Regions from separate parts of the Homo sapiens genome. Here region 1 is linked to region 2. The links come from fine-mapping of genetic effects on gene expression. A gene starts in region 2. The other region holds a variant in brackets. All regions are shown on one strand. Distances are from middle to middle.

Region 1 (5,380 bases), 28 kb before region 2:
GAACAGAATATAGAGCCCAGAAATGAGACAACACATCTACAACCATCTAATTTTCGACAAAGTCAACAAAAACAAGCACTGGGGAAAGGACTCCCTATTCAGTAAATGGTGCTAGAATAACTGGCTAGCCATGTGCGGACTATTGAAACTGGACCTCTTCCTTACACTACATACAAAAATTAACTCAAGATGAATTAAAGGCTTAAATGTGAAACTAAGAACTATAAAAACCCTGGAAGACAACCTAGACAATACCATTATGGACATAGGAACAGGCAAAAATTACATGATGAAAATGCCCAAAGCAATTGCAACAAAAGCAAAAATTGACAAACGAGATCTAATTAAACTAAAGAGCTTCTCCACAGCAAAATAAACCATCAACAGAGTAAAAAGACAACCCACAGAATGGGAGAAACATTTCGCAAACTATGCATCTGACAAAGGTCTATTATCCAGCATCTATAAGGCACTTAAATTTTACAAGAAGACAAACAACCCCATTAAACAGTGGGCAAAGGACATGAACAGACACTTTTCAAAAGAAACATATATGTGGCCAACATGCATGTGAAAAAAAGCTCAACATCACTGACCATTAGAGAAATGCAAATCAAAACCACGATGGATACCATCTCACACCAGTCAGAGTGGCTATTATTAAAAACACAAAAAGTAACAGGGGTTGGTGAAGTTGTAGAGAAAAAGGAATGCTTATACACTGTTGGTGGGTGTGTAAATTAGTTCAGCCATTGTGGAAAACAGCGTGGCAATTCCTCAAAGATCTAAAAAGAGAACTACCATTTGATGCAGCAATCCCATTTCTGGGTATATACCCAAAGAAATATAATCCTTCTATTATAAAGACACATGCACACATATGTTCATTGCAGCACTGTTAACAACAGCAAAGACATGGACTCAACCTCAATGCTCATGAATAGTAGATTGGATTAAAAAAATACAATATCTATACACCATAGCATACTATGCATCCATAAAAAAGAATGACATCATATCCTTTGCAGGAACATGGATGGAGCTGGAGGCCATTATCCTTAGCAAACTAATGCAGGAACAGAAAACCAAATACTACATGTTCTCACTTATAAGTGGGGACTAAATGATGAGAACATATGGACATAAAGAGGGGAACAACAGACACCGGGGCTTACTGGAGGGTGGAGGGCTGGAGGAAGGAGAGGATCAGGAAAAATAACAAATGGATAATAGGTTTAATACTTGGGTGATGAAATAATCTGTACAACAAACCGCTGTGACACAAGTTTACCTATATAACAAACCTGCACATTACCCCTGAACTTAAAAGTTAAAAAAAAAAGAACCAAAAAATCACATGAGCCCTCAAAGTACCCCCACCCCTCCATTCCACGCTTGACCCCAGCAGTAGCATGGTGCGGAGCGCGTCTCTGGGCACTGAGGGAGGGAGTAAACAGCAGTTGTAAGGCATTGAACTCAGTGCTGTTCTGTTAGAGCAGAAAGGAAAACTAAACCAAACTCAGCTAACACCCACCTATTGGGGGAGCATTCAAACCAGCCCTAGCCAGAGGGGAATCGCCTATTCCAGCTGTCTGAACTTGAGTTCCCACAAACCTCACCACTGAGGGCTACAGTGCTCTGGGACTCTAAAAAACCTTAAAGACAGTCTAGGCCGTAAGGGCTGCAAATCTTAGGCAAAAAAAAAAAAAAAAAAAAAGTAAATGTGATCATGCCATGCCCTACAGAGTCCATCTTCATCTGACTGCATCTTCTTTTTTTTTTTTTTTGAGACAGAGTTTTGCTCTGTCGCCCAGGCTGGAGTGCAGTGGCATGATCTTTGCTCTCTGCAACCTCCGCCCCGCTCCGGGTTCAAGCAATTCTCCTTCCTCAGCCTCTTGAGTAGCTGGGATTATAGGTGCCCAGCACCATGCCCGGCTAATTTTTGTATTTTTAGTAGAGACAGGGTTTCATCATGTTGGCCAGGCTGGTCTCAAACTCCTGACCTCAAGTGATCCACCTGCCTCGGCCTCTCAAAATGCTAGGATAACACATGTGAGCCACCACGCCTGGCATGACTTCATCTTCTACCCCCTCTCCCCAGTTCCTCCACCCTGACCAGCCTGCAGTTCTTCTGACATGACTTCATGTCCTAGGGCTGAACTGGGCCCAGAGACAGTGGACTTGGTGGGGGGGCAGGGGTGTGGCATGTGACATACTGAGACACCAGCTGGGGTGCCCCTCCTCTAACTCCAGGCTGCACAGCCCTCCGCTGCATAAGACACTCCTTCCTTCCTCTTGAGGAGAGAAGGAAGAGTGGGGAGGACTTTGTCTTGCATCTTGGATGCCAACTCAGCCACAGCAGGATAGGGCACTGGGCAGAGTTGTGAGGCCCCCATTCCAGGCCCCAGCTCCCAGATGACATTTCTAGACACACCCTGAGTCAGAAGTGAACCTGCCACCTTGAAGGAAAGGACCCAGTCCGGCCAGCATTCAGCATCTGCTAAATGAAGAGCGCTTGGGACCTGAACAACCAGCAGCGATACCCAGGTACTGTATCAGTGTGGGGGAAAAGAAGAGAGATCAGACTGTTACTGTGTCTATGTAGTAAAAGAAAGACATAAGAAACTCCATTTTGATCATATTAAGAAAAATTGTTCTGCTTTGAGATGCTGTTAACCTGTAACTTTAGCCCCAACCCTGTGCTCATAGAAACATGTGCTGTATTGAATCAAGGTTTAAGGGATTTAGGGCTGTGCAGGATGTGCTTTGTTAACAATATGTTTGCAGGCAGTATGCTTGGTAAAAGTCATCTCCATTCTCCGTCCTTTATTAACCAGGGACACGATGCACTGTGGAAAGCCACAGGGACCTCTGCCCAAGAAAGCCTGGGTATTGTCCAAGGTTTCCCCCCACTGAGACAGCCTGAGATATGGCCTCATGGGAAGAGAAAGACCTTACCATCCCCCAACCCGACACCCATAAAGGGTCTGTGCTGAGGCGGATTAGTAA[G/A]AGAGGAAGGCCTCTTTGCGGTTGAGATAAGAGGAAGGCCTCTGTTTCCCGCATGTCCCTGAGAATGGAATGTCTCCGTGTGAAGCCGACCATTCATTCTACTCTGAGATGGAGAAAACCGCCCTATGGCTGGAGGCGAGATATGCTGGCAGTGATACTGCTCTGTTACTCTTTGCTACACTGAGATGTTTGGGTAAAGAGAAACATAAATCTAGCCTACGTGCACATCCGGGCACAGTACCTTCCCTTGAACTTATTTATGATGCAGATTACTTGCTCATATGTTTTCCTGCTGACCTTCTCCCCATCATCACTCTGTTCTCCTGCCACACTCCCCTTGCCGAGATAGTAAAAAATAGAAATCAATAAATACTGAGGGAACTCAGAGACCAGCGCCGGTGCAGGTCCTCGCATGCTGAGTGTGCGGGTCCCCTGGGCCCACTGTTCTTTCTCTATGCTTTGTCTCTGTGTCTTATTTCTTTTCTCAGTCTCTCGTCTCCACCTGACGAGAAACACCCACAGGTGTGGAGGGGCAGGACCCCTTCAATCAAGGGCCTAGGGTGAGCCTCTGAAACTTGCTAGCTTCAGATACCAGCACAGCCACAAATGGGCAAAGCACCAGGCAGGCTTTTGGGGTCACATATTTCAGGACCTGGCTTGTGGATATCTCTGGACCTGCCCTGGGCCAGAGGGGAGCCCATTGCCCTGAAGGGTGAGTCCCAGGCCAGGCAGCATTCACCACCAGCTGACTTAAGAGACTTTGGGCCTTAAGAGAATATTGGCGGTAGTATGGCAGTACTTCCTGTGGAGTACTCCCCGTGGCCTGCGGTGGTGGTGGCTATGAAGTGAGGCTCCTCTGCCTTTGGAAAAGGGAGGGAAGAGTGGGAAGCACTGTGTCTTATGGTTTGAGTGCCAGCTCAGCCACAGTGCAGGTAGACTTCTAAGGTTTTCATTCTACTCCCTGAGGCCCAGACAGCACCTCTGGACCCACCAAAGGCCTGGGGGAGCTTGCTGACCTGAAGGGAAGGACACAGGCCTGACTAGCCTTGTCACCTGTTGACTGTAGAGCCCCAGGGCCTTGACAGAACATAGGCAGTAGCCAGGAAGTGGTTACAGAAGGTCTTGGGTGAGACTCAGGGCTGTGCTGGCTTCAGGGCTGACCCAGCACAGTCACAGTGGTGGTGGCCACAGAGGTGCTTGTGTCGCTCCACCCCCAGCTTTAGGTGGCTCAGAACAGAGAGAGAGATTCTGTTTGTTTGGGAGAAAGTAAGGGAAGAGAACAAGAGTCTCTGCTTGGTAATTCAAAGAATTCTCCTAGATCTTGTCCAAGACCATCAAGGAAGTACCTCTACAAGTCTGCAAGAACCACAGTGTTGCTGAGCTTGGGGTGTCCCCCAAAGCAGATATAGCTTAGATTACAACACTCTAGACCTTTCAAATATCTGGAAACCCTTCCCAAGAAGGACAGGTACTAACAAGCCCAGACAGTGAAGACTACAATAAACACTTAACTCTTCAATGCCCAGACACCAAAGAACATCTACTAGCATCAACACCATCCAGGAAAACAAGACTTCACCAAATGAACTAAATAAGCCAACATGGACCAATCCTGGAGAAACAGAGATATTTGGCCTTTCAGACAGAAAAATCAAAATAGCTGTGTTGAGGAAACTAAAAGAGATTCAAGATAACACAGAAGGGTCAGAACTCTATCAGACAAATTTAACACAGAGATTGAAATAGTTTAAAATAAGCAGAAATTCTGGAGCTGAAAAATGCAACTGGCATATTGAAGAATGCATCAGAATCTTAATAGCAGAATTGATCAAGCAGAAGAAAGAATTAGTGAGCTTGAAGCCAGGCTGTTTGAAAATACAGTCAGTTTACAGCCATACCACCCCGAATGCACCCAATCTTTTTTTTGTTTTTTTGTTTTGAGATGGAGTTTCACTCGTGTTGCCCAGGCTGGAGTGCAATGGCACGATCTTGGCTCACCACAACCTCTGCCTCCTGGGTTCAAGCAATTCTCTCACCTCAGCCTCCCAAGTAGCTGGGATTACAGGCATGTGCCACCACGCCTGGCTAATTTTGTATTTTTAGTAGAGACAGGGTTTCTCCATGTTGGTCAGGCTGGTCTCGAACTCCCAACCTCAGGTGATCCTCCCACCTCAGCCTCCCATAGTACTGGGATTACAGGTGTAAGCCACCACGCCCAGTCTTCGAGCACACCCAATCTTGTCTGAAAATATACAGAGACAGTAAAAGAATAAAAAACTGGATATCCATATGCAGAAGAATGAAACTAGAACCCTATCTCTCCCCATATACAAAAATAAATCAAAATGGATTAGACTTAAATCTATGAAAC
Region 2 (5,380 bases):
ATGCAAAATCTATCAGGCCCAGAGAAACGGAGGGTTGGACTTCAGTCACCACTCAACCCTGTGCCCGGGGGCAATTTTTTTTTGCTTTTGTTTTTTGTCTTTTGTTTTTTTTTTGAGATGGAGTCTTGCTCTGTCACCCAGTCTGGAGTGCGGTGGCGTGATCTCGACTCACCACAACCTCCACTCGACTCACCACAACCTCCACCTCCTGGGTTCAAGCAATTCTCCTGCCACAGCCTCCCAAGTAGCTGGGACTACAGGCATGTGCCACCATGCCTGGCTAATTTTTGTAGTATTTAGAAGAGACAGGGTTTCACCATGTTGGCCAGGCTGGTCTCGAATTCCTGACTTCATGATCCATCTGCCTCGGCCTCCCAAAGTGCTGGGATTATAGGCGGGAGCCACTGTGCCTGGCCAGGGGCAATTGTTTTAAAGGAATTTTGTTCCTGACTGGCTGCCTTTCTGTTCCTAGAATGTGTGATACAAATAGCAATGTATAGCCAATCAATAGCTTATGTTATTTTAATGTAAATAATTGGTAAACAACTCAGAAACTCCTTCTTTTCCTTTAAAATTCACTTGTGGCCAGGCACAGTGCCTGTAATCCCAGCACTTTTGGAAACCAAGGCAGGTGGGAAGATTGCTTGAGCCCAGGAGTTCAAGACAAGTCTGGGCAACATAGTGAGGCCCCCAGTTCTACCAAAAAAAAAAAAAAAATTTAGCCATGGGTGATGGCACCTGTCTGTAGTCCCAGCTACTCGGGAGGCTGAGACAGGAGGATAGCTTCAGCCCAGGAGGTCAAGGTTGCAGCAAGCCATGATCATGCACTCCAGCCTGGGCAACAGAACACACACACACACACACAAGAATCTACTTGTAACTGCTACTAAGTGTATATTCAGAGCAACTTGAATATGTGCTCCCAAGTTGCAATCTCAAACTTAGACCAAATAAACTCTATACTTACATTAAGTTTGTCTCCGTTTTTTCCTTTAGGTTAACAATAATAAAAGTAAATCATTCTCTTTATAGAAAACTCAGCAGCATTTGAAGGAGAAAAAAAAAACACCAACTGCCCATAAAATTAAAAACCGAGAAATAACCACTCATAATACTTGGTATTTTCTTACTTTTTCTTTTTCTTTTTCTTTTCTTTTTTTTTTTTTTTTTGAGACAGGGTCTCACTCTGTCATCCAGATGGGAGGCAGCGGTGCGTTTTCGGCTCACTGCAATCTGTGTCTCCTGGGTTCAAGCGATTCTCCCGCCTCAGCCTCCCGAGTAGCTGGGACTACAGGCGCACGTTATCACTCCTGGCTAATTTTTGTATTTTTAGTAGAGATGGAGTTTCGCCATGTTGGCCAGGCTGGTCTTGAACTCCTGGCCTAAAGTGATCCACCCGCCTTGGGCTCCCAAAGTGCTGGGATTACAGGCGTGAGCCACCGCACCAGGCCTTTTCCATTCTTTTGTCCACAGTTTTGCAGTATTTTAAATTGTACTAGGGGGGAAAATCCCTATTTTAAAAGAATTCTACAGCTAATATTTTCATAAAGCAAAGTGAATTGCTTTATGAAAACAAAGCACTTCTATTCACTTTTGATAATTGAATAGCTGGTCACCTTTCATTTACTTGTCACATATCGGCATTTCTGTAAGCTGGATTTTTGAAAGCAGCCCAGTCTGAAGCAGGGATGTAATAAAAGGTTTTGGAATTAACCAAACTTGAATTTGAATTCTCATTATCCCTTTATTAGCTAAATGACACTAAACAAATTGTTAACTTTTCTGTACTTCAGTATAGAATTTTGAGTTGTTCGGAAGAAGAGCCAAGACCCTTACCTACCTACCTATCTGTCTATGTATCTATCCATCTATCCATCCCTGGTATACAGTAGGTGATCACTGAGGGCGGCATGACCTTATATCCTGTGTTCACTCACCCTCCACCCCACCACCACTCCTAGTCTTTAACACCACCCACAGGAAAACAGAGGATTTCACTAAGCACTATAGAGAACGTGTCCTTTTCTGGCTGGGCACGGTGGCTCATGCCTGTAATCCCAGCAATTTAGGAGGCCAAGGCAGGTGGATCACTTGAGGTCAGGAGTTCAAGAACAGCCTGGCCAACATGGTGAAACCCCGTCTCTACTAAAAATAAAGTCAGCCAGGTGTGGTGGCATGCACCTGTAATCCCAGCTACTTGAGAGGCTGAGGCAGGAGAATTGCTTGAACCTGGGAGGCAGAGGTTGCAGTGAACCGAGATTGCGTCACTGCACTCCAGCCTTTTTTTTTTTGAGACTCCATCTCAAAAAAAAAAAGAAAGAAAGAAAGAAAAAGAAAGTGTCCTTTTCTGTTTTGTGCACCACAAGAGTTTTCTCCCCAGGAGTGCAAATAGGATGCCAAAAATGGGGATAAAGGAAAAGATTAATAAGGTGGGCGGGCCAGCACTAGATGCCTCCACCCCGCCAACCCGCCCGCCTCTCTGCCCCACCCCAACCAGGTGTCAGCCCTAGTCATTCAGGAGATTATTGCAGAAGTTTCCAAACTGAAGCAAGCTGTGCCCAGGTCCCTGTAACAGCAGGTGGCTTTCTGACATCAGCAGAGACTGGTGCTTTTTCCCAGGTACAAAGGACCTCCAGACCAGAGCCAGCCAGCAGCAAAAAGAGCATGGAGCTGAGGAGTACAGCAGCCCCCAGAGCTGAGGGCTACAGCAACGTGGGCTTCCAGGTGAGCAGAGCTTTCCTCTTATGTTAAAGGCCTTCAGTGGAAAAGCTGCCCTTTCCTTAGCCCCTTGGCAAGTTTCTTACCTAAGCAGGGAGATTATCAGGACAATACGATTTTTAACGGCACACTTTAAGCCCATTATTTTTTCTTCTTGGGCTCTTCTGGGTTGACAAACCTGAAAAGTCTCTTTTAATCGATGTGTTGTGATCCCTATGGTCACTTAGAAACAAGACAGCCTTCTTCTCTTGCCTTTTTTCCCTTCTGGCTCACAGCAGGGGTCCATTATTTATCTTCAGGCACTTTTCCAAAGAACTGGTGAGAAGGGAAAAATGGGGGAATTTAGATCCTGGCTGGGGTAGTGTCTCAGGGTTCCTTTTACTCAAGCCAAGTCCTGGAGCCCCTGTCAGATGGCCCCGGTACCTGCCCCAGAGCAGCTGGATTACGCAAATCAGTCTCACTTCATCAACCAAAACTCACTGAGTGATTAATGCTGCTCAGCCCGAGGCTGGGTGCCCGCAGAGACATAGAAGGAGACCTGTCAGAAACACCAGGCTATTTTGACTGGGTCTGGGATGGGGATTTCCAGGGCTGTTTTTAGGTGTGCTTCCTTTCCTTAGCTGACACTCAGCATGGGCGCTCTGGAGAAGATGGGAAGCCTGCACCGGCAAGTGTCAACAATCCCTTGGACTTTACGGTCTGCTAGATGGGCAAAACAAAACTTTGAGGTGCTAGCCAAGAAAGGAAAGAGGGAGGTAAAAGGGCTTTGACAGGAGTTCAGACTCCAGCACCCACAAATTCCTGTAACTTCCCAGAGCCCAAGTTTGATCATCTGTCCCATGGTCACAGTGATGCCCATCTCCATGAGTAGGCATCGGGTTACCACTTATAGGTCACAAGTGTAGGAGAGGAAACAACTTCATCTACCCTCTTAGGTTGAGTGCCTGAGGCCTGCAAATTAAACCAACATAAAACAGATTAGCAGGAGAAAAGGCACGCAAATTTTATTCATATTTAAAATCTCACATGTGGCTGGCAGTGGTGCCTCATGCCTGTAATCCTAGCACTTTGGGAGGCTGAGGCGGGCTGATCATTTGAGGTCAGGAATTTGAGACCAGCCTGGCCAACATAGTGAAACCCCATCTCTACTAAAAATACAAAAATCAGCCGGGCATGGTGGTACATGCCTGTAGTCCCAGCTACTCGGGAGGCCGAGGCAGGAGAATCACTTGAATCTGGGAGGCAGAGGCTGCAGTGAGCCAAGATCGTGCCTCTGTACTCCAGCCTGGTTGACAGAGGGAGACTCAGTCTCAAAAAAATAATAATAATAAAATAAAATCTCACATGTATGAGAGCCTCACATAAAAGAAACGGAAAAACCTAATAGACTCAGGAGCTTATATACCATTAAAACAAAGCACGGCAAATAGTGAAATGACTAGACAAAGGAAAAGAGGGTTATGCTTTTAGGGACAATAAAGTGGGGGTGGGAGGTGGAAATAATGGAAGATAAGGGTTAATTTATCGAGGTTTGTTCATGCAGATTTATCTCAGCGGCATCTCTGTCTTTGGTGATAAGGGTTGCTCTCTTCCTTGTATGAGCAAGCGGGACACCTGTGCAAGGGAAATATCAATAAATGTGCTGCTTTTAGGAAGATGGGGGATGGGGGAGGGCAGAGAGCTCTTTCTGTGTCTGCTTTCTTTTTCATAGCCTTCAGTTCAAAATATTCTTGTGCCAAAATGTGGGCATTTGGAGGGTGGCACATCCTGATCTCTTCTCTAAGGGCTAAGTGAGGGGGAAAAGCATAAAGCATGGGCCCATTCTGATTCCAGAGAATGGAAAGGATGGAATTGGATAGAGTCAGAGGAAGTATGGCAGCAAGAAAATATATCTGCAATAGAGAAGGTCCATGTCACAGCAACTGGCTGCTCCCAGGGAGGAGGGCACACAACGGTGGTGATCCCTCACTGTCTTCTAGCAAAACTGCTGTTTTGTGGGGGAAACATCCCCCTACACCTGCCCCAATAAAAAGAAGGAAAAATGAAAGGAAGCTTCCTCCTAGTTCTGTAAAATTTCCTGTCATCCTTACTCATTGGATTGATTGAAATTTGAATTTCTACATTTCAAAATCAAAATAGTGAAGACAATTTGTCTTTCAAGAGAATCAGAGGCCTCATAACTCCTGCCAAGTTAATAAGTATGAGTCTTACCTTGTTTGACATTCAGCTCTCCTGCTACATTATCTTCTTTAAGGAAAATTAATTGATTGTAAAATATGTGCTACTTCACTCGCATTATTAAATATGCATTAACATGCCACCAGGACTTCCAAATAAGTTAGGATGCTTACTTATTCACCTTGTCCTAGTCTGTGAATTGTGCTAGAAATTCATTTTTCTTCTTCAAATATTAAGAGTGCCCTTGGTAGACCAAAGTTCTAATTTTACTAAGTAGAACTACTTTCACAGCTTGAAATGCTGATATGGGTTCCCAAAAGGCCTGTGCCTGTAAGACCTGGTGCAGGTGCAATGGTTATGCATATCTATGGATTACCTGGACAGGCTCTCATCTGGACTGTTCCTCAAAGAAGGGAGCACCAATTGCTGTTTTCATGGAGCTAGTACTCCAGTGGGAAAGGTTAAACAGGAGCACAAAGTCAGT

Evidence for each region. PIP is the estimated chance that this variant, and not a neighbour inherited with it, causes the effect.
Region 1: its variant is fine-mapped to the expression of SLC28A3 in esophagus muscle (GTEx, PIP above 0.99). The same link has a PIP of 0.9 or more in gastroesophageal junction, lung and testis.

The regions. Positions count from the first base shown.
Region 1 is chr9:84,365,619-84,370,998 of GRCh38, reverse strand. It overlaps a transcript of SLC28A3 not described here. Among named protein-coding and RNA genes, the nearest start is that of SLC28A3, 28 kb to the right of the region's middle. The variant G/A (reference allele first, on the strand shown) is at 3,010.
Region 2 is chr9:84,337,918-84,343,297 of GRCh38, reverse strand. It overlaps SLC28A3 (solute carrier family 28 member 3), which reads left to right and starts at 2,540. Exons shown (of 18, transcript NM_001199633.2): 1 at 2,540-2,724. The coding sequence starts at 2,665.